7 separate regions of the Homo sapiens genome follow, and all the other regions are reported to be linked to region 1. The links are microRNA targets in miRTarBase. Many come from high-throughput screens and were not tested one by one. Region 1 holds a microRNA gene; each other region holds the end of a gene's coding sequence. Distances are between the middles of the regions.
Evidence for each region. Region 1 holds the annotated microRNA hsa-miR-6867-5p (UGUGUGUGUAGAGGAAGAAGGGA, at 1,719-1,741, opposite strand). A microRNA usually pairs through its seed, bases 2 to 8, with sites in the 3' UTR of a target mRNA and lowers its output. Matches are read on the target gene's strand: a 7mer-m8 pairs with bases 2 to 8, a 7mer-A1 pairs with bases 2 to 7 and ends in A, and an 8mer does both.

Region 2: miRTarBase lists CPPED1 as a target of hsa-miR-6867-5p. Seed matches in the 3' UTR shown: 8mer at 3,132-3,139, 8mer at 3,134-3,141, 8mer at 3,136-3,143 and 8mer at 3,138-3,145.
Region 3: the mRNA of CISD3 is a reported target of hsa-miR-6867-5p. Seed matches in the 3' UTR shown: 7mer-m8 at 2,161-2,167, 8mer at 2,649-2,656, 8mer at 2,651-2,658, 7mer-A1 at 3,117-3,123, 8mer at 3,118-3,125 and 8mer at 3,120-3,127.
Region 4: miRTarBase lists RASAL2 as a target of hsa-miR-6867-5p. The part of its 3' UTR that is shown has no 7-base or 8-base seed match.
Region 5: the mRNA of TREML2 is a reported target of hsa-miR-6867-5p. Seed matches in the 3' UTR shown: 7mer-A1 at 2,615-2,621, 8mer at 2,616-2,623, 8mer at 2,618-2,625, 8mer at 2,620-2,627, 8mer at 2,622-2,629, 8mer at 2,624-2,631 and 20 more.
Region 6: miRTarBase lists TMEM130 as a target of hsa-miR-6867-5p. Seed matches in the 3' UTR shown: 7mer-A1 at 2,777-2,783, 7mer-m8 at 2,776-2,782, 8mer at 2,768-2,775, 8mer at 2,766-2,773, 8mer at 2,764-2,771, 8mer at 2,762-2,769 and 12 more.
Region 7: the mRNA of BCAS1 is a reported target of hsa-miR-6867-5p. Seed matches in the 3' UTR shown: 7mer-m8 at 1,287-1,293.

Annotation. Positions count from the first base shown.
Region 1 is chr17:40,190,920-40,195,342 of GRCh38, reverse strand. It overlaps MIR6867 (microRNA 6867), which reads right to left and starts at 1,746; the gene lies at 1,680-1,746. RAPGEFL1 (Rap guanine nucleotide exchange factor like 1) reads right to left here. Exons shown (of 15, transcript NM_016339.6): 9 at 3,849-4,027; 10 at 3,671-3,761; 11 at 3,080-3,130; 12 at 2,650-2,737; 13 at 2,353-2,417; 14 at 1,926-1,980; 15 at 1-1,679. The coding sequence ends at 1,555. RefSeq lists enhancers at 726-775, 400-900, 3,602-3,681 and a silencer at 3,802-3,861.
Region 2 is chr16:12,661,769-12,666,191 of GRCh38, reverse strand. It overlaps CPPED1 (calcineurin like phosphoesterase domain containing 1), which reads left to right. Exons shown (of 4, transcript NM_018340.3): 4 at 1,077-4,423. The coding sequence ends at 1,306. Among named protein-coding and RNA genes, the nearest start is that of SNX29-AS3, 53 kb to the right of the region's middle.
Region 3 is chr17:38,731,868-38,736,290 of GRCh38, forward strand. It overlaps CISD3 (CDGSH iron sulfur domain 3), which reads left to right. Exons shown (of 4, transcript NM_001136498.2): 4 at 1,409-3,738. The coding sequence ends at 1,588. It overlaps PCGF2 (polycomb group ring finger 2), which reads right to left. Exons shown (of 11, transcript NM_007144.3): 10 at 4,223-4,303; 11 at 2,031-3,733. The coding sequence ends at 3,356. It also overlaps the pseudogene RNA5SP440. Among named protein-coding and RNA genes, the nearest start is that of CISD3, 3.7 kb to the left of the region's middle. RefSeq lists an enhancer at 3,056-3,583.
Region 4 is chr1:178,472,134-178,476,556 of GRCh38, reverse strand. It overlaps RASAL2 (RAS protein activator like 2), which reads right to left. Exons shown (of 18, transcript NM_170692.4): 18 at 1-3,482. The coding sequence ends at 3,318. Among named protein-coding and RNA genes, the nearest start is that of CLEC20A, 23 kb to the left of the region's middle.
Region 5 is chr6:41,189,414-41,193,836 of GRCh38, reverse strand. TREML2 (triggering receptor expressed on myeloid cells like 2) reads left to right here. Exons shown (of 5, transcript NM_024807.4): 4 at 936-1,036; 5 at 1,331-4,088. The coding sequence ends at 1,410. Among named protein-coding and RNA genes, the nearest start is that of TREML2, 9.5 kb to the left of the region's middle. RefSeq lists enhancers at 2,299-2,368, 1,987-2,494.
Region 6 is chr7:98,844,768-98,849,190 of GRCh38, forward strand. It overlaps TMEM130 (transmembrane protein 130), which reads right to left. Exons shown (of 8, transcript NM_152913.3): 7 at 3,816-3,928; 8 at 1,723-3,441. The coding sequence ends at 3,289. Among named protein-coding and RNA genes, the nearest start is that of TMEM130, 23 kb to the right of the region's middle. RefSeq lists an enhancer at 2,749-3,948.
Region 7 is chr20:53,941,322-53,945,744 of GRCh38, reverse strand. BCAS1 (brain enriched myelin associated protein 1) reads left to right here. Exons shown (of 13, transcript NM_001366298.2): 13 at 749-2,204. The coding sequence ends at 823. It overlaps BCAS1-AS1 (BCAS1 antisense RNA 1), which reads right to left. Exons shown (of 5, transcript NR_199019.1): 4 at 4,350-4,423; 5 at 2,164-3,570. Among named protein-coding and RNA genes, the nearest start is that of BCAS1-AS1, 28 kb to the right of the region's middle.

The DNA.
Region 1 (4,423 bases):
GAGCAGAAGGGGGCCCATGGGACACTGTCAGGGCAAGAGGGCATGGGACACAGCACCTCCTATGTCCATAGAGGATTTTTGCTGCAGGAACAAGACAGATCACTGTATAAAAGGGTCTGTACAACATTACCTATGATACAATGTTCACATATGATACAAGGCTCTTTCCCTCTTTGAGTTTTAAAAAATAAATGTACAATTCCAGAGCTTTGGGTAAAAAATATATACACCCTCATAGCAGGAGCAGCAGCTGCTTTTGCTACGGCTGTTGCTGTCTCTTCAAAAGGGAAAGAGGTGGTGCCAGAAAGAAGGGTGAGTCTGTGCCAGGAAACCTCACCCAGTAGCTGCCAGGAGCCCCTGCACCCCTCAGGCCTTGAGGCTGGTGATGGGAGAGGGAGGGGAGTAAAGGTAATAAAGGCCTTGCCAGAGTCCAGTGGCGCCTTTACAGTCTCTGCCATCCCCCTCCCCCACTTTGGGGCTGCCTGCCCCAGGTATAGGGATCCACCCCACCCCAGCTCTATGGGGAGGACAAAGGGAGAGTCAAAGAGAGAGGGACAGAGACCATGTTGTTGGTGTCAGACACATGAGCCAGAAGGGGGATGTCAACTCCCTCCTTAGCAGTTAGATATCCCAAAAAGCAGGAGTGTGGGCAGCAGACAACCCTAGCTCCTGATACTGCTCTACCCGAGCCCACTGCAAGGCAGGGGGAGGGTCCTCTAGGCAGCTGAGGCCTGTGTTTCCCTGAGCATCTTTTACCCTCTCATCAGAGCCCATCCCTGGACCTTCCAGAGGCCTGAGTGGGGGACTTGCAAGGGCTGATGGGTAACCCCTCCCACCTGCTGCTACTCCCTGCCCCAAAAAGCAGCTTGGCTCACAAGCCTGGGCATGCAGGGCAGCACGAGGAGCTGAGCAGGGAGTGTGGGGGTGGAGAAAGCACCCCGCACCATCCAGGGGCAGAGTAGACAAGGGTAGCACCAAACAGAAGGACCCCTCCCCAGCACACACAACATCCACCCTCAATTACCAGATGCACTCCTGCTCCCTAAAAGAAGACACACACACACACACACACACACACACACACACACACACACACACACACACACACACGGCAACATAATATTCCTGGGGGTCCCAGCCCTGACCAGGAAGAAGCTGGACAGGTGGTGGAGAAGAAGGCTGCCAATCCCTCCCACAATCCCACTCTGCAAGACAGAAGGGTGAGCAGCATTCTTTCCTGCTGCAAGAGGAAGTTGGAAGCTCCATCCCCAGAACAGATCTCGATGGGAGGACATAGAGGAAGGAGCTTTCTATCCCCTTTCTCAGAGGGGACAGGAACCAGCAAAGTGTAGTTTTGGCTTGAAGGAGCAATGGGGAGGGGACTTCAGCAGGATGAACAGACTTATGGGTCCAGGGGTAAATCCATCGACCTCTTTCCCGTGGAGCAGGAAGTTGCTCCACGGGAAAGATGTCAGATGTTGGTTGAGACATCGTGCAAAGTGCTTGAGTGCCAGGTGCCCAAGGATCTGGCGGGTCTGACTGGAGCCTCCACTCTCACTGACTGTTTGCCTCCAGCTTGTAGGAGAGCTCGAAGAGGAGGTTCTGGTTGTCGATGACCTGAAACTGGCGCACATAGGCCTTGGTCTGCAGGTGATTGGGGGATGCCTCCATGTCCAGGCCTAGTGGGTAAAGAGGGAGAGGCAGTCAGGTTCCCAGCTTCCCTTCTTCCTCTACACACACACCGGGCAGAAGATCAGGCTGTGGACTGAGACAGATGTTGGGCAGGAAGGCCTCTGCAGAGGCAAGGAGAGAATGGGGAACCAGCAAGTGTATGGAAATACACATCTGGACAGGGAGTTCTCCCCTGAACCCTCCCGTTCAGTCAAAGCTCTATCTGTACTGCTCTCAGTACCCTGGGTACTCACAAAGGGGCCGGCTCCGGTATTTGCGGATTGTCCTCACTTTTTCGGCCACTGAATGCTGGGAGATGACAAGGAATGAGCCTTGAAAGGGGCACAGAAAGAGGCTCCCCCTCTTATGCTCCCCCTCCGCCATTCTCCCACTCTGCTTTACTCCCTCCAGTCTCCAATTCTGGAGGGTCTCTGAAGGACCAAAGGAGTGGGTGTAACAGAGTGCCATGTGAGGGGGAGGTGAAGTTGCCCCCAAGCTGCCTGTCAGCTCTGCCACCTGTGGGTGGGTTGCCACAGTGATGCCACCAGGGAGACAGTCAAGAGTCTGTTAGGCAAGCTGGGCACTTGGAGGAAGGCTGCTATTTTTGGGAGGTGATGAGAGAGGGAGAGGATGCAAGCCCCCCACTTGTGGGACTAGGGGTTTGCAGTGCCACTCACTCACCAGCTTCTCGATGTTCACCAAACCATCTACAAGGGTCTTACTCCCTTCGTGCAGGAAAGTCAGGTCTAGGGGATGTGGAGAGAATCCAATGTGAGGAAAGGATAAGAGAGGAGTTCGAAAGGGGCCACTGCACCCGAGGACCCCGCTCTTCCCCAGAACCCACTCCGTCTGTGGTGGGGGGCTCCTCTCCAGGTGGGTACTCAGGGCTGAGTCGAGAGGGAGCTGGAAGTCAGAAGCAGGGCATAGGAGAAGGGAAGCATGGGTGGAAGCGGCACAGCTTGGGAGTAACTCTCTCACCTTTGAGGATCAGAGGCACGAAGGGAATCACAGGGGGCTTCATTTTGGAGATCACTTCTCGGTAGCTTTTGTGGTTCCTGCAGGGGTCCTAGTATTCCACAGGAGAGAGATCAAGGGACAGACTGGCCAATGCATCCCAAAGATGTCCTCAGCTTCCTCCCTCACCCCCTGCCTTGTATACATTCCTGATCAGATAGGGGTGCTGGGGGCTTTCTAATGGTGTGGTGGGGAGGGACCTGACTACTCCCCCTTTCCTTCAAGAAAAACAGGGGCGCAATCCTTCCAACCTCACCCTCCAGCATGGTAAGGAGGGTGGGGGGTCCCATACACTAAACACCTTGAAAGGAAAGCTTGAGGAAGGGGGTTTATGGGAACAGAGGGTTTCTGGGCTCTCAGTCCAAGAGCAGAAGAAAGAGCCAAACCCACTCACCGTCAGGTTCTCAAATTTGCGAAACAAGTTCTTGAATTTCCCTGGCAGCTTCTGCAGAGTTTGAAGGAAGGAGAAGGGATATCAGAGTGGAGCTCCTTGGGTTACATGGGAGCCTCGGATTAATTCTCCCTGTTGGAGGGCAAAAGGGCCTGCATGGCTTGTAGGGGGCTGGGAAGCTGGTGGGTGGGGAAATGAAGTCAGGCCTTGGCTAAGTCTAGAGGCTTGAAACAGCCCAGAGGAATTCATTATTCTGGGGAAGGCCAGGTCTGTCTTATGCAGGTGCTTTGTATAAAGATGCCCCCACTGAGTGTGGATGAAAATCAGCCCAACTCCCACAGCCAAGTCTGCGACCTGACCTGGCCAAGGGCTGCCTGCCGTGACTCAGGCGGGATCCGGGCTTTTCACTAATTTGCACAAAGACAGGGTCCATTAGCCAAGCTGTGCGCCCTGGGGTTGCGTATGCCAGAAGAGGGCGCCTCCCTCCAACTGGCGCAAAGACTCCCTCCAGGCCGGCGGCCGTCCCGGGAGGACGCACTTCGGGGAGCCCGGGATGCCCAGATTCCCAGGTAGGAACGGGAGGGGTCTCATCACCTCCCAGGTGAGTCGAAGGCGGCTGACAGCGGCGTTGTCCAGCCCCATGACCACGGCGTAGAAAGACAGCAGGTCCTGGTTCTGCTTGCAGCTGCGGGGGTGGGAGGCGGGGTCAGGGGCGGGCGGCGGCGCGGGCCTCCGGCCTCCGGCCCCCCATCCCGCCGACGGCCGCACTCACAGGGCCGCGATCTTGATGAACTTCTTGAGCAGCTGCGCGCGCTTGCCCGGGGCCTCGCAGAGCAGCACTTCGGTGGCCACCCAGTGCGTGACCTCGCTGCAGCGCTGCAGCAGCAGCTCCAAGTTGGCCGTCTCCCGGCGGCCGCGCTCCCCGTGGAACACGTAGTCCACGAACTCCAGCTGCACCCACGGCAGCGGAGGGGCGGCCAGGGCGCCAGGGGGTGAGGGGAGTGGGTGGGAAGATGGCAGTGCAAGGCGATGAGGAGCGAAAGGCAGGAGGGCGGGGGCGGAAGGGGTGGAAAATAGAAAAATAGAAAGGACAGGAGGCGGCAAAGATGCGGAAAAAGAAAACAACCAGCATTAATAATATTTCACCAGCTACTGAGCACTTACTAGGTGCCAGGCATTCGCTCACGGCTGACATCCTCAAGACAACCATCTGCTAGGCATTATTGTCTCTGCCTTATTTTATTTCTTTAATAGTGAATATTTTAAAAATAGAAATCCTGGGTCAGGTTCTGTGTAAACAGCACTTGGGCCCTGAGCCACTGTGCTCTGGGGTCTCTCTCTTTGCGA
Region 2 (4,423 bases), not on the chromosome of region 1:
GGGTTGATCATATGTCAGACATGCTCTGCTACCTTAATTAGAATGCCATAAACATTATTTTTATTTATTTATTTTGAGATGGAGTCTTGCTCTTGTCGCCCAGGCTGGAGTGCGGTGGCACGATGTAGGCTCACTGCAACCTCTGCCTCTTGGGTTCAAGCGATAACCTGCCTCAGCCTCCCGAGTAGCTGGGATTACAGATGCCCGCCACCAGGCCCTCCTAATTTTTTTATATTTATTTATTTGTTGGTTTATGTGTTTATTTTTGAGACAGAGTCTCGCTCTGTTGCCTAGGCTAGAGTGCAGTGGCATGATCTTGGCTCACTGCAACCTCCACCTCCCGAGTTCACGTGATTCTCCTGTCTCAGCCTCCCAGGTAGCTGGGACTGCAGGCACCTGCCACCACGCCTAGCCAATTTTTGTATTTTTTAGTATGAGATTTCACCATATTGGCCACGCTGGTCTCAAACTCCTGACCTTGTGATCCACCCACCTTGGCCTCCCAAAGTGCTGTGATTACAGGCGTGAGCCACCACACCTGGTCATTTTTTTTTATATTTTTGGTAGAGACAGAGTTTCATCATGTTGGCCAGGCTGGTCTCGAACTCCTGACCTCAAGTGATCCACCCATCTTGGCCTCCCAAAGTGCTGGGATTACAGGCATGAGCCACCATCCCTGGCCATAAATGTTATTTTTAAAATACATAACTTTTGTCATCTGGATATTTCTATAGGACTCAGGCTGTTTTCTTCAGTCTCCTTTGTCTTTTCTCAAAGTCATTCACTTCATCTTCCTTCTCTCATTTTCTTCCCTAGTACGTCTTTGTACAAGTTATGACAAACATGTTAATAATATATTATATATATGAAGTATCCTTTCAAAGATTCTGGACATCACATACGCTTTCTATTTGTTGATTATATACAGAATAATATTATACATTTAATATGATAATTCTACATGATGGTATAATAATATATTTAATATATTACTGTTCACAGAATAAAATGCTGGAGACCCTAGGTTACCTAATGGAAGTCCTCGGCCCCCTAATGACTTTTTCCCTTCTCTGCAGGTGTCAAAGTCGTGTTCTCAGGCCACTACCACAGGAATGCCGGGGGTACCTACCAGAACCTCGACATGGTGGTGTCATCTGCCATTGGATGCCAGCTGGGCAGAGACCCCCACGGGCTCCGAGTCGTGGTGGTCACCGCCGAGAAAATTGTTCACCGATACTACAGTCTAGATGAGCTGAGTGAGAAAGGAATAGAAGACGATCTCATGGATTTGATCAAGAAAAAATGACGCTCCTTCCCGTTCCCGTTCACTTTTCACTTGCACTATTTTTTTATTTTGCCAGAAACAGCAGCTGCACACAACCTCTTGCTGAAATATAAAAATAGCCCAGGCAGGTTTGTGAATTTATGTCCTTTTGCATAAATCAGAGAGCTGGGGCCCTGTCCTGAATTATATTCAAAATAGAACTGCATTTCCTTTAAAATGGAGCGAATGATCCTGGAAATCAGTTTTTAAAATATTAGACTATCTCTGCATGGATGTTTGAATAAATTCTCCTAATGCTGTGTTTCTCAACTCCACTTTTGAATTGGATTGTATTCTGGTTAGCATATGGTCAAAGTCTGCCTATCGACCTCAATTCCAATCTGACAGCCAAGTATGATCTTTGATAATTCCTTAAACAAACTACACCTGATTGTATTAAATTGTGGTCACGATTCCCAAAACGCTAGGCAAAACAAAGTTCATCTCCTTTCCTTTCCAGCGGAACGAACAGCTGTCTCCCTTGTTGTGAGAGCCATGCAGACTTATTTTGACAAGGAGCCAAGTAGGCACCATTTACTGTTCAATTCTGAGACTTCTGATGATAGGAACAGAATGCAGTTGATACAGCTCGGAGCTTAAATTTGCCTTCCTGGGTGCCTAGAAAAGTCACCTTTGCACATAAATTGGCCATTTCTGAAAATCTCCTCCAAGAGACTGAAACCAAAGCTCTAAAACGCCGCTTCTTCAGTCTCTGGGGAGCACGTTGAGTTGGTTCACATCCACATTCTGGCTGTGTAGCCACTCCACAGATGGGTGGTCTCTTGGGATCAGAATGCCCCTCCACTCATGAGACTCTTCATTTTGTCCACTTTGACAGGAAAAGTGGGAATGTATGCAGAGCTCTCAAAAGAAACAAAAAAGGCCAAAACGGTGCCTTCAGCCACATCCTCTGAATTGGCCCTGACTTGGACTAAATGCACTAATGCAAAATCCCTTGACAAAAGCGCATAGGTTATTTCAAACCAGCATTGTTTTTTATGTAACCTGTTTTACCGCATCTTCTCAGCAGCTTCTGACCACTGCTCAATTTTCTCCTTTACAGCCATTGTTCTGGTGGACAAATAACCTAGGTACTCCAAATCCTGGCAGGAAAAATATACAGCATTATGAAACAGCACTCAGTAATCCTAAAATGATTTCCAAAGCTGGTTACACATGACCTGCAAAGTCTATTAAATTAAAAGACTTTCTCATTACAGAGTTTAGTCAACGTAGCAAAACCATGGGAAATTAAATGGAAAGATAATTAAATATGTAAATTCATAAGGAACAAAAGACGAGAAGTTAATTATACAATAGGCTGGTGACACCAGAGTTCATTGTTATGTGCCACAAGAAAATTAAATTTTTTAAAAAACTAGAACGCTCTTCTTTTAGTGTTTTGCTGAAATCCTGTTTTGTATTTGTTTCTTTACAACAGGTGTAGGTATAGGAGGTCAAGAAAAGGAGTTCGGTAAAGGGCATAGCTAATAACAACCACACATTGGGCCAGGCACAGTGGCTTACGCCTGTAATCCCAGCACTTTGGGAGGCTGAGACGGGCAGATCACCTGAGATCAGGAGTTTGAGAACAGCCTGGCCAACATGGTGAAACTCCATCTCTACTAAAAATACAAAAATTAGCCAGGCATGCTGGTGCACACCTGTAATCCCAGCTACTCGGGAGGCTGAGGCAGGAGATCGCTGGAACTCAGGAGGCAGAGGTTGCAGTGAGCCAAGATCATGCCACTGCACTCCAGCCTGGGCAACAGAGCAAGACTCTGTCTCAAAAAAAAAAAAAAAAAACCACACACACACACATTGAGACTTGAGATGTGGTGACACTTGGATCATAAACAGAGGGCTTCGATTCCAGGATGGGGGTTCCTCCAGGGGGAAATGAAAAGGAGCTCTCACTCTGTTCTTACGTATGCACAATGCTCTGAATTGTGGCACATGGGTTTGCAGAAGGATAATGGAGATAATTGAAAGTAATGAAAATGAAACCAAATCTCCTTCCCCAAAAACTTAAAAGAACTGATTCAAAAGTACCCCAAGAATATGCAAAGAAAAGGGAATCACATCAACAGATGATTGGATAAAGAACATGTGGTATGTATACATAATGGAATACTATTCAGCCACTAAAAAGAATGAAACCATGTCTTTTGCAGCAACCTGGATGGAACTGGAGGCTGTTATCTTAAGTGAAATAACTTAGAAGTAGAAAGTCGAATACTTCATGTTCTCACTCATAAATGGGAGCTACATAAAGTGTACCCATGAACATAGAGTGTGGAACAAACATTGGAGACTCAGAAGGGTGGGAGGAGGGTAAGGGATGAGAAAGTACCTGATGGGTACAGTGTACACTTTTCTGGTGTTGGTTGCAGGAAAAGCCTGGACTTCACCACTTCGCAATATATCCGTGTAACAAAACTGCACTTGTACGCCTTATATTTATACAAATTTAATTTTTTAAAAGGGAAGAGAGAATCATATTAATTTCTCACCACTTTTTAAGTAAGCAAACAGCAGTATTTCCCAGAGGCAAGAGGTTCAGCAAGAAGTCAGGAAATGTTTTTGTAGATAAGCATCTATCATTCTGATGGGCCATGACTAGTGTGTTCACTTGTAATTCCTTTGCCTTTAAAAAAAGAGAATGATATCAAAAAATAAGTGCCTTATACTGTGAAAAACGATAAAAGGACTTCCTGATTCTAAGTGCTATGGTTTTGAATGTTTATTATGTGTTTTAAGTGCTTTGGCTCAGAAAGGTGGGGGTCACGTGGCCAAGGTCGCCTAACTCATCTTGGTGGAGAAAGAACGGATGTAGATGGCCCAAGGCTTGAGTCCATGCTCCATAACACTGTCCTGTCTTGGAAAACGTTTCTCAGAGGTGAAAGGTTGCACCAGCTCAGCCAGTGGCAACACACTGAGTACGGTATTCAGCACCTTGGACAGCGTTAGCTGGAGGCCCAGGGATTTCCTCCCAGCTCTGCAAAGCCTAGACCAGACCCTGATTGCACCAGGTTCAGGGGGCAGAAGCTTGTCCAAAGAGCAGATGGTTCCAGGGGGAGGATTTTTACTGGGGGAGAT
Region 3 (4,423 bases), 1.5 Mb from region 1:
AGCTTCCGAGATCAGATGAGATTGGGCGCATTCAGGGTGGTATGGCCATAGACACATTGGGAAGAGATTCTGCTCAGGCTCTCCTGCCTCCAAAGCCTCCCAGCCTTCCCCTGTGCCCCTCTCTACTCTTCTTCCAGAAAACTCTTCCTTCTCAGTTTATGGGACTTCCTGGCCGCTTGCCACAGTTTGCTGTCTTCTCAGCTTCACTGCCTGCCCCACTTGCTTCCCCTTCTGCCCAGGAGCCTTTCGTCCCAGCAGGAACCTGCCCATATTGTTTGCCTCCCTGGCCCCTTTCCTTCCTGAGCAGAGCTCTGACTGGTATTCCTTCAAGCTATGTGGCATGGTGTCAGCAGCCCAGGGTCCTTGAGTCCCACTTAGGTCCATGCACCTCAAGCCCTCTAAGACAAGTTGCTGGTTTCTATTTGCACGCTTCTCTCATCTCCTTTCCATCCCACCCTAACTCCAATGTCAAGAGGCCTTGGTTCAGCCAGGCGAGGTGGCTCACCTGTAATCCCAGCACTTTGCGAGGCCAAGGCAGGAGGCTCTTTTGAGTCCAGGAGTTCAAGAACAGTCTGGGCAACAAAGTTGAGACCCCGCTTCTACAAATGCCTCTACCCCCACCAAAGACTAGCATGGAGGCAGGCCTGTGTTCCCAGCCATACTGGAGGCTGAGGAAGGAGGACCGCTTGACCCCAGGAGGTTGAGGCTACAGTGAGCCGTGTTTGCATCACTGCACTCCAGCCTGGGCAACAGAGTGAGACCCTGTCAAAAAAAAAGGCCTTGGCACCAGCTCTGCCTTCAGCTAGCAAGGCATGTCACCTTTCTGGGCCTGTTTCCATTACCCAGTCTCTGCTTGAGCGGCTTCTGGGATGGGGAGTACACTTCTGTGCCAGCCAGCCAGTTTGCTATGGGGCATCCCCTCCTCCTTGTAACCTTCACTCCCTGTCACGTGCCCAGTTATTCCCTGGAGCCAAACAAAATTGCTACCACAGTGTACTCTCCAGCCCAAAGAAGTTTTAACCCAGGAACATGGGAAGTAAATGAATTTCATGATCCAGTGGAGACTCAGAGACACACACACACACACACACACACACACACTCACACTCTATTAGTGTCCTGGCCCTCTGGGTGTCCCAGAGACTAATGCTATAAAGACTCTGTAAATACTTACCAGACACTTACTATAGGCAAAGTGCATCACGATCATATTTTATTTCCTCATACAACTCTACTCTTATCACCCCCACATTACAGATAAGAGAGGTCACTCAGTGAGCCTTGGCAGTCTTGCTCTGGAGCCTGTACCCTAACCACTGTGCTCCACTCCCCCTGAGCTCCTGCAGCCTGCCCTGCCCTGCCCCAGCAGGTGGGGTCAGGTCTTTGACTCCTGTCTTTCCCCCACCAGCCCTTCTGTGACGGCTCCCACTTCTTCCAACGCACTGGCCTATCTCCACTCAAGTTCAAGGCCCAAGAGACCCGCATGGTGGCACTCTGTACCTGCAAGGCCACTCAGAGGCCCCCGTACTGCGATGGCACCCACAGGAGTGAGCGCGTGCAGAAGGCAGAAGTGGGCTCCCCACTCTGAGGGGGCTGCTGCTGTCCAGCCACAGGTGGCCTTGGCTCCAGGCCTCTGACAGGCACCCCCTTCTGTGGGAAAGGAAACAGGTGCTGAGCCCAAGAGACTCTGGTACCCACTGCTGGCTCATGAAGGAAGAATTATTCCTTATAACCTAAAAGTCTCCAGTCTGGGGCAGGCGGGAGTGGGCCCTGGTTCAATGTTTGCTGATGGGGAAGATGGCAAAAACAAGCCTGCCCAACCAGACTGGTAGTCCTGCAGTCACTGCTATGAGGCCCACGTGCTGCCTCCTGCTCCAGATTTTAACCTCTCTGTGGGCTGGGGGCACCTGACCAGCCACAGGAGAGGGCAGTTCAGATTCATTCTGTATGGGGTCCCCAAGCCAGGCTAAACCCAGAGATGAGAGGCACCCTTCCCTTCTTCCCTCCACCCCAAAGAACTACAGGCTCCAGAAAGTATGCAGCATTTATTACAAAGCCAAGAGATACAGATGTCCCAGGGCAAAGGAGGGTACAGTCACAGGACCTCAGACACAGGACAAGGTGCAAACACAGACAAGCCCATCAGGGGGCTCCCAACCCCACACACCTACGCTATGATGGAATCTCGAGTCTCGACTCCCGACTCCTCTCAGATCTATGCACACTTGAGGAAATCTCGGTGGGCAGCGACCTGCCAGGGTCTGTCCCTAAGGAGGTGGTCCGCTGACCTCTCAAGGGGTGGGGGTGGGGTCAGAGCTTACAGGTTTCTGTCTTCTTGTGCTTTTAGATGCAGTTGCTCTGTCCTGACCAGGTGACCGGGCCTCAGCTGGGGGTGGAGGGGCAATTGGAAGGCTGTTTGCCTCTGGCAAAGTCTGGGATCTGTGCTTGTGTGAGGTTAACCCACCCCCACTTCCACTCTAGGCCCCAGGTGAGACTCCACCACCAGTCCTGCTAGTGAGGGTTCCCCGGTGAGGGTAAGGTTGGTGGGGGTGCAGCGCTTCACAATGCTAAAGCCTTAGCCCTCCTCCAAGAGCTGAGACCTCTCAGGGCCTGAATCTTCTTTTCCACAAGATAAATGATGCAAAGGCCACACACACAGGAAAAAAAAAAAAAGAGGCAGAACTATCTATTCTTTGCACAAAGTTTCCACTGCAAGAGGAGGAGGTGATGCAGGTGCCACCTCCACCCTGCACTTGCTCCTCAGAACCAGGGATAAACTGCATTTGTAAAAGGCACTGTTCTTAGCAATTTCTGGACATTCAACAACGTGGGGGGCGGCCACTGGTCAGAGGCAGGACAGCAGCCAAGATGGGGAGAGAAACGGGGAGAGAAAGAAACGATTCTAACTGACTCCTATATGCAGCCAGTTGGAATCATGCCTAAAGCTTTGGGTCTGAAGGGGCCCCCAACACACCACCTGCCTTGGGAAACAGCGAGGATGGTGCAGAGCTTTATTGAGACTCCAGTGGCCCATCCAGTTCATCTCCAGGCACCCCCAAAAACAGCAAATTACACAAGACCCCCCCCAAAAAAAATGAACACCATTTTCCACACATACACACACACATAAAGTTTGTTTCCTGTGGCATTTAAATTAATCTGGTTGGTCCATAGAAAATAAGTATGTATATTTGGTTTTTCCTATGTACATATATATATATATTTATTTATAAAACCCGCCCCCCACCCCCAAGGTGGGAAGAGCTGGGGAAAGTAGAAGAGGTGGAAAAAAGGGCCCAGAAAAAGTGGAAGGAGTGGAGAGGCTTGGCTGGAAGAAGGGAGAGGGTCCCTGGCCTCAAGTTAAGGGGGGCACGGGAGCGCCGTTGACAGTCATCTTGCGCCCCCTGCTGGTGGAGGATGGTGTCTGCAGGCAGTTCAAGCTACCCCCGTTGGCAGCTGTGGTGGCCCCACTGGCTGTCGAAGGGGGAGTGGGGGAGGTAGGGTGGGTGGCTGGAGGCCCATGGGAACTGGGAGAGCCATGGGATGGGGTGGCTGGGCTGGGCAGGGAGGAGGAGGTGGCTGGCAGGGTGGCAGGGCTGGGAGCCTTGTCGCTGACTGACTCACACTCGGACGCCCCGCTGGTGTTGGTGCCCTCGGAGGGGGTGGGCACCGTGGCTAGGGTGAGCCGCTTGCAGGCTGGCTGGACACGGTACTTGAGGGGGAGAGGCCCGTTCTGCGGGGAGAGTGGGGAGGAGAGACACAGGGAAGGGGAAGGTATCAGGAGACAGAGTCCAACTAAAGGGCCACCATCTCCACCCCACAGTGTCCAAACTCGAAAAAAGGGATGGGATGGGGCCTTGGAGAGGAGAGAGACAAGGATACAGGGTGCATGAAGACCCAGAGAGGGAAAAGGTCTAAGAGCAGAGACTCCGTCAGAGAGGAGACGGGAGAGAGGGAGGCAAACACACGGCAGCTGCCAGCACCTATTTCTGCCCCCAAATCTGGGGACACCGTCTGCCCAGGGAGCCTTGTCTCCTGAGCGGAAAGTCATCCGCAAGAGATGGCCCAGAGGCTGACCTGCTGTAGCAAGCCACCCTGGACATGCAGCTCATGGGATAAGGGACAGACTGTCTCTGATTACAGAAGGGTGGCCCATGTGGCCACAGACCTATGCCAGACCCTGTGGGAGTCTGCTCCCTGCCCGCCCCACTCGCTGGCTCACCCGCCGCCAGGGGTAGATGTAGGCGATGTCCATGAGGGTGTAGTATTCCTTCAGTGGCTCGTCCTCGTACAGAACCTCCACCTGGGGGAGGGAAGCGGAGGACACCATGACCCTGGCCAGCTCGGGGCTCCAGGCTGGGAATGTGGGGGACTGGGAGGCGGGGCAATGGGAAGGGTGGATTTACAGATGGTCCCTTATTTC
Region 4 (4,423 bases), not on the chromosome of region 1:
CAAAAAGCTATAGCAGCATGATTACCTCATTTTACCACATTTTTCTTACCGTTAGACTGCCATAAACCCCAACAGTACCTTGGTGATAGTGCTTGGAACATGGTAAGTGCTCAAGTGCTTGTTATAGTTACCTAGTTATAATCTCCCCTCTGACATGGCTTTTGCTGCAGAGACTCAGGGAATATGATGACCTGATGGAAATGTGACTCTTTTTGCTGCTTCAGCTCAGATTGCTTATTGCTTCAGTAATATAAAAGGGGAATATGAAGCTCTTTTCTGACTCCTACCAACACTGTCCTCATTAATGGTCAAGTCTGTTGTCAGCTAGACATGCACTTTACAAGCACTTCACCTGAATTCCAAATTCCACTCAACCCTGATCTATCCTGCGCCCCACAATGTGGTGTTGTTTTGAGGGAAACAGGAAGTGCAAGACATTGCTATCTTAATCTATTTGCCTCTCTTCAGCCATGTACCTCCTCCCAGCAAACAAAGTTATTTACCTACTTGAACTGAGGGAAAGCCAATTAAGAAACATCTCCATAAAAATTATCACCTGTTGGTGGCTTCTCTTCTTAAAAAATCCTTCAGAGTAACTTATACAGATTGCAGCATTCTCTAAAGAAATACTGAGAAAAAAGGTTGGACAGGAGTAGGCTCACAGGATAACTTAACATTTAACATCTATCAGCAACTCTGAACTTTTAGCTTATTGGTAATGCTCTATTATTATTATTTTTTACTATTTCTTCTTCATTCAAGATAACCTGGTAGTAGAAGGCTGCATAATCTGTCCAAATGTTTTGGGCATTAAATCTTTCAGTGAAGACAGCCCTCTAAGGAGCTCCCATAATGCTAATAAGATACACTCTATCCATCAAAAGCACATTTGATTTTTTGGGGCTTCTCTCAATTCCCAATATAAGTAATTTTATCAGCCCTCTGTAATCCATAATCGGCACTTAAGAGCTTCCAAACCTCAATGGCAAGACATCACCCACATTACATACTTATGGCCAATGAAACTGACAATTCTCTTACCAGGTTTTCTGTGGCACAATTGAAGGCTTTTACAAAGAATGAATTAAACATGGCTTGAGCTGAGAATAGCCAGAAACAAGAACAAATCTATGCTTACATCCCTCCTCCTTCAACAAAGGACACTACACTTTGGAACAGTTACCTCTTTTTCCTAATAAAATAAGTGATTTTGACCACAGTGTGCCCTCCGCTTGGAGAGAAGGTGTAAGAATTTGCAAACCAAAACCAAAGGTGAAGAAAACGTAAAAGTGCCAAAACAGCTGGATATAAAGTGTGCAGATCAGATAAACACAGTGAGAAACTCCCATTTTAGATCTGTCTGGCAGAAACAGGGATTGCTATGAAAGAAACTGTTTTAAAAGGTTGTGGGTTATGTGGCCATGGTGAGGTTGCTGAAACGTAAGGTCCAACACAAAGATCCACCTGAGAGAGGGCAGAGCTCAAGAGGCTGGAATGCAAGCCTGGGACTTGGTGAAAAGGAGGGCTTGGTGTCTGTCGGCATCACTCAAAAGAGGGCACTATACATGTTCTCTTATAAATATTCTGTTATGGAGAAACACTCACTTGATGCATATGGCTCCCTCAGGTCCTTTTTTTTCCATCCCCTTTTTCTAGAAAAAAAATTCTTTAAAGCTTATAATTTAAAATCAACATCAACTTATTCGAGAAACATTGTTGCTTTCTCAATATAAAACAACTACTTAGATCTTGCTTAAAGAGGTTTGAGACCCTTTTAACATTATATCTGAACAGCATAGAAGGCATGAACTTTTCCTATTTGTGCAGTTATATGTACATATGTGTGAATATATATTATATATATATTTGTATATATAATGTCTGTTTAACATGTAACCTTCCATACTTCTGGTAATCAAGGTTGCATTCAAGATGACATTGCACACCTCTGGAAAAAAGGAAATGAATTCGTTTCCATGACTTTTTCTGTTCTATAATAATAAGGCTATGGATGACAAGTGTTGAAATTGGGTCATTATTGTCAGATCTACGAGCATTGGAATAATAACTGGAATGTGCCATCCTGACACTTTCCATTATTTTCTTTTTCTTTTAAGAGAGTGATGCTTCAAATTTGGATTTCCTTTCTTTATTGAGGGGATAAGGGGAAGAAGTACTTTAAAAGTTAAAGATGGAGATAAAATTACCCCCCATAGATTTGCTAGTACAATGGATAGAGTCTTTATCCCAAACAAAAATTATAACAACACATAGAAAAAATTTTTAATAGGAAATATTCAGAGATTCCAGCTGTGGTATGGTTAGCCCTTTTCTGTATGGAAGAAAGGGTGTTGATCTGGATGGCTTATGGACAGCTATTTAAATAACCTCTCCAGGGGAGAGTAAACCCTGTTGGTGATGACAGCTCCCACTATGGGGAGGAAAGCACAGTGAATGTGTGAAGATGAAGATGGTATGTGGAGACACAAATATTTATAGTTTTGTAAACTCTAAAGAGGAAAAAGAACACCCTTTATTACAATTGGGGTTAAAAACAAAAAGCCCCTGTCTAAAAGAGAAGACTCCCATCTGCTGTAGACAGAGGAAATAAACATATTGACAGGAGTTCAATAGAAATTACTCCTAAAGTCCAGTTTTGATGCAACAGCTTTTGTCTGTGTCCTCTGAAACAGTGAATCCCCAAATCAGATTAGCTGTCCAACCAGAACCAGTCTTGGTTGATCAGTGGAATAAATTATTGTTTTGTATGGATCTTGGTATTTGCATGTTTTCTGAAAGGACAAGAGGGCCAGAGTGGGGTTTTTAAACTAGTAGATGAATCCCTGAAAAATTCCTTCTCACAATGTCCTATTGCACTCCATGTGCTTCTATCAGATAGATGCTTGGTCTCTACCTACTGAACCTACAGGCTCATGTCTCGCTCACACAACAGTTCCTACTTTACTTCCTGTAACAACTGCAGTGCTTTCAACAAGAGGAAAACAATAATAAAAATAGCAATAATCAAAAAGGTAATCTACATTATTAACTTCCTTTTGGTATATTACAGTGATATTTTCTGTACATGGCCCAGAACTAAGTTCCCTATGTACATAGAGATGTGGGGGAAAAGCATTGACCTTGGAAGTCGCCGCCTTATGCCCTGAAAGACAAGGTTCCTTTCTTCATTCAGGAGTTTCTCACCACATCGCCATTGTGAAGTAGCAACATTCTGTAAACCTGGAGGGGCTAGGTAAAGGTCTGGAGATAGGAGAGTGGGTCAATTTCCTTCTGTCTCCTTCCACAGACAAAGCCCGTCAGCAGCTGCTGTTTTTGAATTCACCATTCTCCGTGATGGAAAGCTTGGTGGGGTTGGTGGGGGAGATGCCATTGCGGACCTGCATGCTGTACCGCTCCTTCACTTGGGTCAGCGCGCTCATCAGTCTGGTGTTGGCTGAATCCAGGGACACGATCCGTTTTTCCTACAACACACCAATCATGGCTTTATTCAGGCTACAGGCAGGAGGTAACACGCTTTCTTTACTGAATGACTAGTCCAGTGCTTTCTCTCAAACAGTTGTATGCATGGTGCTTCCCAGACAAATGGAACGTCTCTGCCTCTTTCTGCACACTGGTCAGGTTCAGCTTCCCCTGAGCCCAGTGGATCTGTGTTTATTTTTTTCTCTCTCTCTTTTTCTTTCAGCATAGCAGGACTTTTTATTAACAATCTCTTGGGACATTAGACTGTCATGTAAAAGTGATACCATGTGTTACCTCAGACTATGCAACACAGGTATCAAGCTGCCTTATTATACTAAGTGCTTTAGGTCAAAATTGAAACATGGAAATTAGGTGGCAAAGAAAGAAGCACCAGAGGTTTCATTTCACAGAGGAGAAGAGCATGTGATCTATGGGTTCTTAGCCCCAAAAGAGGGCATATCAGTCACATTTGGAAGGAATTCACATTGTGCTCAAAATTAAAACAATACATGGTGGCAGTGTAGAGTCACCAACAAGGTGAGGTTGCAACAGCAAGAGGGGAAAAAAGCAGCCAAAAAGCTCAGACCAAGGAGTTACTTGAATATGGGGAGGGAGATGTGCCGAAAAGGGAATGCCATCAACATAACACATGAGAACAAACAGAGAACACAGGCTCCTAGACCCATTCCAGCTCAAAGTTACTCCAGGAGGGCTGCCCAATACGGAGATTGCTTTCATTTTACTTTTGAGTCTCTGAAAAAAAATGCTTTAGAAACAATATTTGGAAACCAAGCATTGGTGAATACACACACACAAAAACCAAGGGGGAAGAAAAGAGGAAAAAAAATAGGCAGTCTAACTAAAGGAAAGTAGGACTATCTAAAATTTTTTTAATAAAATCATTTTATCAAAACATTATCAGTCTCCTAAGGATTAGGTTAGA
Region 5 (4,423 bases), not on the chromosome of region 1:
GCTGCAGAGATGAGGGTAGGGGGCAATGAGAGTTGGTAGAATTAGGGCCAGGGGGGATGAGAGTCAGAGATGAGCATGTCAGGGGATGGGTGTCCTGAAGTGTCTGTGGATGGAGAGGAGAGGGTGAGGATAGGGCAAGGATGCGCCTCATGGAGTAGGAAGTGGAAAATGGGGGATGCTTTAATTTGGATTCCTCTAGAGAAACTGACTCTGAGTCAGGGATTTGCGTCTTATATGAACACTGGAAAAAAGGTGGGGGAGTGGGACAGGGCAGGGAAGGCCTCTAATAAAGAGTACTTAACCAAGCAGCTGCTGTGCACAACAAGAGCCTAATCCCAACGGGGAGAGTCAGATCTAGCATAAAACACACATCTGAAGGGCAAAGGAGCCCGCATAGTTACACACCAACTCCAATTGGTTATCAGTAGAGGGCTGCCTGCTGTGTGTGGCATAGAGGGCTCTAGTGACAAGAGAAAGGCCTCAGCCTCCCACCCACAGAAAAGGAGGTGCTGATGATGTGTGCAGGTGGAAATGACACAGGCAAGAGGACACAGGCAGGGGCCCGACAGCATCTGCTACAGAGGATAGAGTGGGGGAACAGGCATCCTCAGACCCCTTGAGGAGAGCAAGCATCTTGATCTCTTTAGCCACAAATGGGAGTCTCCTAGAATCCTCATCCTCACTGATGAACAGATTTGGGGGCATAATGGAGGAGAGGTACCAAAGTAGAGAGATGTTCCCCTCTACCTGGGGACGTCCTCCTCTTAACTCCGGATGTCACACTTGCTTCTGTGGCCGGGTCTGTAAGGAAGAGGGTGGCCGTCTACCCCGGGAAGGGCACGCTCTCAGGGTTTCTGCTGCTGGTCCGATCCCAACGTGGGTTAGGATGGGGGACCTTGGTGCTCACCCGCTTCCACCCTGTCCCTTCTTCTCAGGCACCAGGATGTTTACTCCACTGTGCTTGGGGTGGTGCTGACCCTCCTGGTGCTGATGCTGATCATGGTCTATGGGTTTTGGAAGAAGAGACACATGGCAAGTGAGTAGAGCCCACCTCCCAGCCTCCTGAGGGCAGAGCTCTGGGTAACTGCACTAAGGGTTATGACCTCGAGTCCCCACGTGGTATGGCCCTTGGCCTGTGTCCAGTCAAAAGGACTATGACGCTTCCACCTGGGGAGGAGGGCGGCCAGGCGGAGACCACCCAGCACAACCCTAAGGGGATGACCTGGAAGGAACCAGAGGCAGAGCCAGAAAGGGGCTGGGGCTGGTGGAGGAGCATCGGGGCACCGTGGGCAGGGCAGGACACTTCCTCAGCTCTCCCTGTTTCTTGCAGGCTACAGCATGTGCAGCGATCCTTCTACACGTGACCCACCTGGAAGACCAGAGCCCTATGTGGAAGTCTACTTGATCTGAGGCCACTTAAGCATGGGGTGGGGAGCTTCTCCCAGAGTGGCCCCAGGGGGTTAGAGGAGGGGTGAAGATTGGGGCCAGTATCGATCTTATGAAGCTGGAGGACTTGTGCAGTGCTGGACTCACCCAGGACTTCCCAAACCCAGAGGCTGCCATCCTAAGCAGCCCCACAGCCCAGTGTTCTCCTTGGGGGCAGGAACCTGGGGAGGGGCCCAGAGCAAAGGGCATCAGGGAGAAAGTCCCGAGGAAATGTGACCAGTGGTTTCTGCTCGGAGCTGCAGACCCCAGGGCTCTTGGTGGAGGCAGGGGAACCCTGAGAGTGCTGTTTACAGAGAACCTCAGCTCCCGTCTGCCTCAGAAACCCTATTGGGCTGAGCTGCCCTCCCCACCAGGGCCACTGTGTCCTCTGCTTCCCTCCGTTCTGCTTCAGCTTCCCCTAAGGTTAGGGAAGAAAGAATCGGGCTCACGAATGCCAGAGGCAGTGATGTCCCATCCTGGAGGAGAGGAAACAGTGACTAAAAGCTGGGGACCCACAGAGGGGTTGGCAGCTTCTCTTGTCGGGACAGGTGTCCTTTGCTGGGCCTCTGGATGGCCCTGCCCTGACTGGGGCTGCTCCTCCCTCCTGTCCTGGGACCGCGCAGAGCCCACGCTCTCACTGCTGCCTCCTGCTGGCCGCTGCCTCCTTAGAAAGCTGTGACCAGGCAGCTAAGAGCCTCTGGGCTGCAGGGTCAGCCTCTCCCAAGACTGAAGTGCAGAGGCTGGACTTGGGGCTCTCTCCCCCAGCTTCTACACCTGGGCTCCAAGTCTGAGTTCCCACAGGGGACCCAGCAGCCTCCAGGAAGTCCATACCCTGGGGTGGCTGAGACCTTGGCTCTGTATGGAGGCTGCTCACCCCACAGACACTGGTGGGGAGACCATGGCTCAGAGGAAGGGTGGAGCAACCCTCCTCCTACCCCTCAGGATAGAGAGAGAAGACACACTTGGGACACAGTGAAGACAGTAACTTGGAACTGACCACGGCCTGGAGGACTGGCCCAGGCAGGGGGACAGGGAAAATGGAGCCCAAGTAGCCTCTGGCCAGGGACCCAATGTCCCGAGGAATCTGCCTCCCACCCACTGACTCAGGGCTCAGACTCAGCCTCTATTGTCCAGAGCACTGGCTTGGCGTCCAGCAATGAAGGCTGGAGAATGCAGCCTGGATTCCCCTACACACACACACACACACACACACACACACACACACACACACACACACACACAGGTGTCTACTGACCTGGAGTGACTGGAATAGCACCTGGGGATAAATGTGACAACTGTGCATTGAACCCTGGGTCAGGGACGTTCCAATGGCCAAGAGAGTGACACAGCCAGGACCCTGGTGGACAGCCAGAGGGGCCACTTCAGGATGGATGTGGGGAGAGTGGAAGAGGCAGGGAGTAATCCTGGGGGACAGCAGGGAGGAGGCACTTCTTCCCTATGTCCAGGAGAGGGCAATAGAGGGAAGACTGAGGCTGAAGAATTGACGGCTCTGGACCCAGGACAGACAGACAGACAGACAGACAGACAGACAGACAGACACGCACACACACCCATCTCTGTCTAGCAAGCAGCCTCCTAAGATAGCTGTTCTCCCTATCATGACGGTGTAGCCACCATCCTGTTGTATACTAGGAGAGAACTTAACCCACCTGGGGGAAAATAGCTCCCCAAGAGCTGGCACCAGTACCACTGATGGCCCTGCTTCCTCTGAGTGAGATGCCCAGGAGGAGGAGCCCTAGGGAAGAAGTCAGGGACAGGGACCAGGATACCACTCTGTCACTGTGTGACCCTCAGCAAGTCACTAACCCTTGGCCTCATTTTTCCTGTCTTGTGAAAGAGGACAATAATTCCTACTTCTCAAGATTGTTTTCAAGATAAAATAACATTAGCATTGTACAATGATGCAAATGCCTCATTACCATTATTCCTTAAGTTGTTTTCCAGCTCTAATGTTGTTTCCAACATTACATTTAAGACCTTAGGATTCTGTTTCTTGCTTTTGTCATATCTCTTCCCAAGTGTCATCACTATATGGATGTTGAGGGCCCCCGATGACAGTCCCTTTGGTAAGGTCCTCTTTTGAGGAGGGGAGGGTACAGGGTGGACTCATCTCAGTGTGAACTTGGCAAGTCACTGTCCCTCTCTGATCTTGTTTCCTCATCTGGAGAAGGAGTGAGAGAGGAGAAAGGAAGAAACCAGTCAGGCAGGCAGTTAGGGTGGGTTCTCGGTAGAATTCTTTTAAACAAAAGAACAGCCTGAAAAATCAAGCTGCAGGCACAGATATGGGAACTTGCACAGGGGGGCTTGCCTAAGACATGCCCACAGCCTCATAGATAAGACAGACTACACAGGTGACTTGCCCAAACATGCCTGCAATGGAAAATTTCATCCCCTGACATGTGCAGTAAGGGGAACAAAGCAATATGGAGTAAGTAACTCAAGCCAAGGGCCCACATGTACATTAGAAGGACAGCAGGGAGCTACCAGAAATTCATGCCTTATGCAGATGAGCTGCCCAGTCCTCATCGGTTTCTTATAAAAGCCTTTACATTCAACTGTAAAAATGGCAACCCTCTTTCAGGCCTCCTCTCCACAGCAGAGAGCTTTCTTCTCTCACTCATTAAACTTTCACTCCAACCTCATCCTTGGTGTCCACGCTCCTTAATTTTCATTGTTGTGAGACAAAGAACTCCAGTGATACCTCAAACAATGAGAGACTGCTACATTGTGGTGCACTGGTGAGACTGTAACAGGAGGGTGGAGAGGAGCTCTGAAGCCTCTTCTGACTTCCTTGGGTATGTGTGTCAGAGGTGTTTAAACCAGATGGACTCCATCTTGTATAGAGGCTGAGTAAAATAAGGCTGAGACCTACCGGGTTGCCTTCCCAGATGTTAGGCATTCTAAGTCACAGGGTGAGATAGGTTGACACAAGATACAGGTCATAAAGACCTTGCTGATAAAACAGGTTTGCAGTAAA
Region 6 (4,423 bases), not on the chromosome of region 1:
TTGGGGTTTGCTCTGAGAAGGGAGACACTGAAGGGTTTGGGGCAGAGGAAGATGTGGTCTTGGAGCAGTTTTGTGGACAAACTTCTGGCTCAGTGAGGGGTGAGCAGGAGCTGCCAGGCATTATGAGAGCCCTGCCAGGGACCAGGGTGGTGGCAGCAGGGGAGGAGGGAGCAGCGGTCAGATTCTGGATCTCAGTTGAAGGATTTCTCACAGGATGGATATGAAATGTGAGAGACGGAGCTGCCGAAAATGACGTGGGGAAGTCTGTTTCCTGGGGCTGCCGAAACAAAGTACCACGAACTAGGTGGCTTAAAACAACAGCAACGGGACCAGGCGCGGTGGTTCACACCTGTAATCCCAGCACTTTGGGAGGCCGAGGCGGGTGGATCATGCGAGGTCAGGAGTTCAAGACCAGCCTTGCCAACATGGTGAAACCCCATCTCTACTAAAAATACAAAAATTAGCCGGGTGGGGTGGTGGGTGTCTGTAGTCTCAACTACTCAGGAGGCTGAGGCAGGAGAATCGCTTGAACCCGGGAGGCAGAGATTGTAGACAGCCGAGATCGTGCCACTGCACTCCAGCCTTGGAGCAAGACTCTGTCTCAACAAAACAAAACAAAAAACTCAGGGCTGGGTGCGGTGGCTCACGCCTGTAACCCCAACATTTTGGGAGGCCAAGGCAGGAGGATAACTTGAGCTCAGGAGTTTGAGACCAGCCTGGGCAAGATAGTGGAGCCTCATCTCTACAAAAAATAAGCAGAAAATTAGCCATGGATGGTGGCATGCACCTATAGTCCCAGCTACTCAGGAGGCTGAGGTGGGAGAATCACTTGAGCCCAGGAGGTCGAGGCTGCAGTGAGCTATGATCGTGCCACTGCACTCCAGCCTGGATGACAGAGAGACTCTGTCTAAAAGAAATAATAAGTAAATAAAAATAAATAAGGCCAGGTGTGGTGGCTCACACCTGTAATCCCAGCACTTTGGGAGGCCGAGGAGGGCAGATCACAAGGTCAGGAGATCAAGACCATCCTGGCCAAAGATGGTGAAACCCCATCTCTACTAAACATACAAAAATTAGCCGGGCATGGTGGCACGTGCTTGTAATCCCCGCTACTTGAGAGGCTGAGGCAGGAGAATTGCTTGAACTAGGGAGTCAGAGGTTGCAGTGAGCCGAGATCACGCCACCGCACTCCAGCCTGGCGACAGAGTGAGACTCCATCTCAAAATAAATTAATAAAAAGAAATAAAAGAAACGCAGAATCCCAGGCCCCACTCCAGACCTCCAAAATGAAAATTCTTGTTTACCAAGATCTCTAGCAATTCTCATGAACCTCAAAGTTTAAGAAGCCTGCTAGAGACTAGTGGTTCTCATACCTGATATGCACCAGAATCGCAGAGGGCTTGTGAAAACAGGTGGCTGCCCCCCTACCCAGGCACTGCTTCAGGTATCAGGTCGAGCCCAAGGGTCTGCATTTCCAACACGTCCCCAGGTGTGGTCCACGTTCCTCCTCTGGCTCTAGAATCCCCCTGAGGTCTCAGACAGGGATGCATGTCCAAGTCACCTGGGGACAGCTCTCCCCACCTCCAGGGACCTGAACTGGCTCCCTTCAGTTGTCTTCACCACAGAGGACAAGTGGGATGTCCTGCTGCGTCACAGCACTGCCGTTGCTGTCTGCAAGGCAAAAACGTCCATGCACAAAAGAGAGACTCTGGCCACACCGTCTATGCTTGGCTATATTCAGAGCACACAAGCTTTATTTAGCAACAATGGCAGTATTTCATGAGAATGAGCTGCACAATAGTGTAAATGCCATTTTCTGCACACAGCCTGGGAGCAGATGGTTACAGCGACAGAGCCCAGACCCCACAGTCCTCCCCTGCCCTTCCTGACAGGCTCCGGCTACTTCTGGCCTCATTATTGTCTCAGCCACAGCCCAGGTCGCTGGGCCAGAAGGGAGGGTGCAGGCTGGTTCCGCTGCTCAGGCTCTGTCATCCTGCTTCTTCCTTCTCAAGGCCACCTCGGGAGCAGCTGGCAGGCAAGAATGCCCCCCTCACACACAGGGAACCCAAGTCCCTGCTGACTCAACCTCTTCTTTTTTTTTTTTTGGAGACAGAGTCTCGCTCTGTCACTCAGGCTGGAGTGCAGTGGCGCCATCTGGGCTCACTGCAAGCTCCGCCTCCCGGGTTCGCACCATTCTCCTGCCTCAGCCTCCCGAGTAGCTGGGACTACAGGCACCCACCACCACGCCCGGCTAACTTTTTGTATTTTTTTAGTAGAGACGGGGTTTCACCGTGTTAGCCAGGGTGGTCTCGATCTCCTGATCTCGTGATCCACCCGCCTCGGCCTCCCAAAGTGCTGGGATTACAGGCGTGAGCCACCGCGCCCGGCCTTGACTCAACCTCTTCTACCGCTGCAAGGCCTTTTCCTCAGTGAAAGTTTCACAGATGGGTTTCGATAAAATAAGGTGATATTTATAAAGCACTCTGCAATCACTCAGTATTAGTCCTGCCCCCCATCCAGCCCCCTGCCAGCCAGCAGGGACTAGGATGGCCTTATAAAGGGCGCAAGAACTGCAGAGACAAAGCACAAAGGGAGGGCCCGGGCCCAGAACCTGTCAGGGCTGCTTGGAGGTCAAATTTCCTTTCAGCTCTAGTGCAGGGTGCATCCCAGCAACCGACTTAACCAGATACAGAGCTGATCATCTGAAATGCCCATGTGACGCATGTGTTTATATTTCTGTGTGTGTGTGTGTGTGTGTGTGTGTGTGTGTGTGTGGTGTGTGTACATGCACACTTCTCTCTGTGAGTGTGCCCATCTATGTGTACAACCTTTAGTTATGGATTTTTAACCCTTTATGACCTTCTTTCTAGCTCTCTGGCACAGGTAGGGCTGTCTGGGGGAGGAAACTGAGAACCCCCAATGGACAGCAGATGTGCCAATATGAGAGGAATGGGCAGTGGGCAGCCAGGCCCACCTGGGAGTCAACACGGAACACCCCAAGCATCAAAGTCCTGCACGAAGCCTCTTCAAAGGTAGGGGGTCAAGGGGGTGGTAACCGAGTGGGGCTTATGTCAGTGGCTGGACTGTACAGATGGGTGAATGGCTGGGGTCAGGGGTGACAGAGAGGGAGGGGCTTGTGGCAGTGGCTGAACTGTACAGATGGATGGATGATCCAGGCCAACAGCCCCACGCAAATGAACCCCTCCTGGTCAGTGGTGCACACCACCCTGCTGGAAACTCCAAGTCAGCAGTCAGTTAACACTGAGATGGGGTGGGGAGGGGGAGTGCTCACACGGTGTAAGTTTTGACAGACTTATAGAGGGGCGGGAGCAGCCCGTGGTTCTCACGAACAATTTCCAGGTACTCAGATGGAGTCTCCAGCAAGAAAGGCCCACAGCACATCTGGCAGCAGCACCTGACCCCAGAGGGTGGCTCCGGGTTCTTGTCAGACATGGGGGAAAAGTCAAAATCAGCCACCTATGATGAACAAAATCCCACGGGTCAATCACCCACCCACCAGGAGCCCCATCAGGTGGCCTTATGAGCTCAGCTGCCTGGTGGCAGAGTGCACAGAAACACCTTTCTGGCACCACACAGATGCAAGAGATGGATATAGGAGATAAATCAGATGGGACACCAACTTAGCAATTTTTCCTGGTCTACAGATGCCTCTTGGGCACATCACCCCAAGTCCCGGAGCCTCGCTGTAATATCAAGACCCCCTCCAGGCATCCTGGCCTGGCCCCCATACCCTCTCTAAACATCCTCTCTAGGCAAGGCCCAGTAGTCCAGCCCCCACCCCACTGAGTACCCACCTCCACCATGTCCTTTTGCTGAGTGGCATTCCGCAGGGTCATGTACATGATGAAGGCCAACATCACAGTGATAAGTGTAGCACATGGGAAAGCAAAGACAGCCGGCTGGATTCCTGGGAATGAAAGAAGTAACATTACAGGACTGGGTAGCTGGTACTACAGTGCTGGTTCTCAGGAAGCAAGCACAACAAAGGAGGGAATGGTCAAGCCCCACCAGTGATTTTTTTTACCCTCATGTACATGCATCCCAACTGGGCAACCCCAATAGGTAAATCCAGGACTTCACAAAAAATAAACTGGGGTCTGGGTAGGGGGCTTTCAGCATACATCCACAAGTTACTTGGTAGCAACTTCCAAGAGGGGCAGCTAAATTCCTCACACCTTGAGTGAGGGCTGGACTCAGCGACCAGCTCCTAGTGTACAGCAGATGAAAGGAGTGACAGTGCATGACTCCTGAGTCTAAGCCATAAGAGACACCACAGCTCCCTCTTTGCTCTCTCGGGTGACACACTTTTGGGAAGGGCAGCCATGTTGTGAGGTCACCCAATCAGCACTGTGTCCCCTGCTTCAGCTTCTCACGCTCTGGCAACTGCAGGCTCACCCAATAA
Region 7 (4,423 bases), not on the chromosome of region 1:
ACCCACATTCAGTCAATGTTAAGGCTAGGTACCATGTGCTAGGAACCTGCAAGGCACTGAGACACGCAGAATCCTTGCAGCTTCCAATCTGGTGTAGAAGACAGATGTTAGACAAATAAATTAGATAATAAGATCATTTCAGAGAGTGGTATGTTCTGAGAGAGAATAAAATAGGGTTTGGGATGGGGGGTTGGGGGAAGGATAGCATTAGGAGATATATCTAATGTTACATGACGAGTTAATGGGTGCAGCACACCAACATGGCACATGTATACATATGTAACAAACCTGCACATTGCTCACATGTACCCTAGAACTTAAAAGTATAATAAAAAAAAAAGAAGAAAATAAAACAGGGTGGTGAACCTAGATGGTAACTGGGGAGGGAGCTAAAGTGAGGTAGAATTAGTACCCCCTAGGTACTAAGTACATTATAAGCATGAACTCACTTTATCTTGGGAACAACCCTCTGAGATAAGTTTGTCATTTCCATTTTAAAGATAAAGAAACCAAAGCGCAAAGAGATGATAAGTAATTTGTCCAAGATTTCACAAAGCTAGAAAGTCATGTAACTGGGTATCGAACCCGGGCATCTGACTGGAGACCATTCTCTTACCCAGCACTGAGGAATGAGATATATTAATTTAGCCCAACACCTAGCACAGAGTAAGTGCTACATAAATGGCCATTGTTGCTGTTGACATTACAGAGCTTCAATAGGCTGCCACGTCTTTCTGTTTTTCTCCAGGGACCAAAGCGGATGTTGGATGCTCAAGTGCAAACAGACCCAGTATCCATCGGACCAGTTGGCAAATCCAAGTAAACAAATCAGCACGGTTCCCACCAGGTTCTCCTGCCACCAAGATGTGTTCTCCTTACTCCATCTCCTCCCCAAACACGCTCCATGTATATATTCTTCTGATGGCCAGCAAATGAAATTCTGCCTAGAAATTAAGCCCGAGCTGTTGTATATTGAGGTGTATTATTTACGTCTCTGGTCCAGTCTTTTCTGGCAAATAACAGTAAAGATGGTTTAGCAGGTCACCTAGTTGGGTCAGAAGAGTCGATGATCACCAAGCAGGAAAGGGAGGGAATAGAGGAATGTGTTCGGGTTAAGTGATGAAAATGGCAGTGGTGGCCGGGCGTGGTGGCTCTCGCCTGTAATCTCAGCACTTTGGGAGGCCGAGGCAGGTGGATCACCTGAGGTCAGGAGTTCAAGACTAGCCTGGCCAACATCATGAAACCCCGTCTCTACTAAAAATACAAAAATTAGCCAGGCATGGTGGCACACACCTGTAGTCCCAGCTACTCGGGAGCCCAACGCACGAGAACCGCTTGTACCCAGGAGGTGGAGGTTGCAGTGAGCCGAAGTTGCACCATTGCACTCCACCCTGGGCGACAGAGCAAGATTCTATCAAAAAAAAAAAAAGGCAGTGGCAAGTAAGTTATAGAAGAGAAATGCTGCTAGAAGGAATTAAGCGTTGTAGTAAATGCGTGCTTATCCTCTAAGCTTGAAGAAGGGAGACGAAAATCCATTTGTTTAAATTCACATCTCAAGGAGGGAGAACCCGGGCTGTGTTGGGTGGTTGCCAATTTCCTAGAACGGAATGTGTGGGGTATAGAAAAAGGAATGAATAAGCGTTGTTTTTCAAATAGGGTCCTTGTAAGTTATTGATGAGAGGGAAAAGATTGACTGGGGAGGGCTTAAAATGATTTGGGAAAACAATTGCTTTTGAGGCTCAGTGACAACGGCAAAGATTACAACTTAAAAAAAAAAAATAAATAAAAAATAAAGGAAGTTGCACGGTTATTTTGCAACACAAGGGGGCGGCAAGGTCCCCATTTTTATCCTGTAATACTGTATCCCTAACAAAGATTTGGTCTCTGCTATCTTACATTATTAATGTTTCTCAGATGGCTGAGGGGCTCGCTTCATCTGTTCCGTCTGACACTTATCTCAAGTGTGTCTGTCATTCCTAATGTTCTCAGGATGTGCTCTGATAAAACCCTCCCCATAACCTCAGTTAATAAAAATTTACAGAAGACTTCTCAAATACCTGAGTTGTTTTTAATACCTGTACAAAGGAGTAAATAGGACCCTGAGTCTATTAAAATGTAATTCAAAGTAGCATATGATTGACTGACAGTCATGTAAACTGTATCTTTCTTTTTCTGATTTAATAAAAAATACATTTACTTCTAAAGTATCTTTTAATTTTCAACTTCAAAGCAGTCCCACTCTATATCTGAGATGACTCTAACTTCTACATTATAAAATCCATACTCTTTCTCCATTATCTTCTTTGGAAGATCATTCTCTCCCAGATCTTCCCGGATTTCCTTGTATATGGGCACACACACACACAAATGTGTGCAGTTGTATGTTTGCATGTACACACACATGCATGTATAGAATAGTGCTGTCTTAGGCCAGGTTGCTTGGAGCAGAGCCTGAGATGGGGATTTGGACGCATAGGATATACTGAGAGTGGGCTCCGAGGGAAAGGGAGTAAGAGAAAAAGAAGAGGGCAAGAAAAGAGTTGGGCAAGGGTTGGTTTCAACTGGAGCATGAATTGCACCACCCAGATAGTTTGACCTTGAGTCAAGGGAGCCAGCCTTTGAACCCTGGTAGGTGAATTCTGGGCTGCCCTGGGAGGTGGGGGGATGGGCAAGCGGCCCCCATTGAGCTGAGAAGCTGGGATGCCTAAGTAACTGGAGGATGAGTGCATTGACAGTGTCCACTACAGATACACACCTATATGTTCAGATACATATTTATACCCATATTTGCATATATATGCACATATTCATATATATAAATATATATCATGCAGGAATAGATCCATGCACTCACACAGTCATATTTACATACATGCAAATAAACACATGTAACTAACACAGATCCACACACACACATTGGCTCACACAAATCTATCTCATATGCAATTCATCACACATTGATCGGAGATAAACATTGAATATACTCTCCTGATGTGGATGGACCTCGACTCTAAGGACAAGTTTGCTGCTTAGGCAAATTACACCACGGCTTTGGCAAATAGGCATTTGGAAAATGTGTTCAGAAAAATATGGTATCACTCAAAACCCAAGCGTAAGTGAGGAGGGGATCCTGAGCTGCTGGGGCCTATTAGCTCCCAGCTTGGACAGGTCAAATTCGTGTTTCCAATAAAGACCAGAGGTCTTTTCCTTGCAGCTGGGTTAGTTTTTTCAAACCTCCTGACCATACCTCGAGATTACTCACACCTGTGCCTCACCCAGTTGAGAACTATCTCGTGCCGCTTAGTATCAGAATGCTTAACTTGGCATGAAGCAGGAAAACAGCACTTGGGGAAGCCATTGGTGGGAGGCCCATCACTGCCATCGTCAGAGCACGGGGTGATTCAAGGAAACCAGGCAGCTGCTATTCCTTTGTCTCCAAACACCGTGGGGGTTGTCTGCTGCAACCTTTGGTGAGCTCCTGAGCTGCAGTCCATTGAGGAAGGTGACAGTATCATTTGCAAGTTTCACCTCGCTGGGTACAGGGGCTTTTTGCCCAGATAAGAAATGCCCCTAGGCAGGAGGAAGAGAAACAGACTGAGTAGCCCAGGCCAGTTACTTAGCCAGTTACTAAGGCAGATGGAGCCCTCCCAAGCCCCCACTCAAACAAAACAAAACAAAATAAAACAAAAAAAAAGCCTCTTTGCTGAGAATCTCTCTGCAAAGCATGCCAACAGTTTTTATAACTGGTTTCCTATGCTCCTGGGCCAAAAAAGAGAATAGTCTTTTAATGAAATTGCTTTTTTTTAAAAAAGCAAGAAATGCCAGAGAGAAGTAAAGCGCATGACTTACTGGGAGAACTCTAAATTCAGTTATGGCTTAAGAAACAAGTTAATACTCCATTTTTGTGTTTGTGTGTGTGTGTGTGTGTTATTGTTGTTGAGATCCCATTTCCAATGCATTTACAATAAATACTAATGCCCACCCCTTATGCAGAACTAGAGTGAAAAAGAGCTGAAACTCACCAATAAACCCAAGAAAGCCTTTAGGACACAGATTCCCAGAAATGCCATCAGACAGAACAAGCAGTGGGGGAAATAAGCAAAGCAAAGGTGGCACACAGAAAAACATGATTAAAAGAGAAAGAAGAATTAAGACCTGGGGGAGGGAGCAAAAATGACTTTCTTATTATTATTATTTATTTACTTATTATTTATTTTTAGGTACACAGGGAAGTGTGTCTTCTCCCATGTCAAGAAGAAGTGGCCTTTCCAGGAATGGAGCTATTGAGCTGAAATGGCTGCCACTGCGCGTACACACACACACGCGCACACACACACACACACACACACCTCCCTTCCAGTTCCAGCTGACGGTGACTTTTTGACTGGTAACCATAAAAGAATTCATTCAAAAGGGCAGTTGT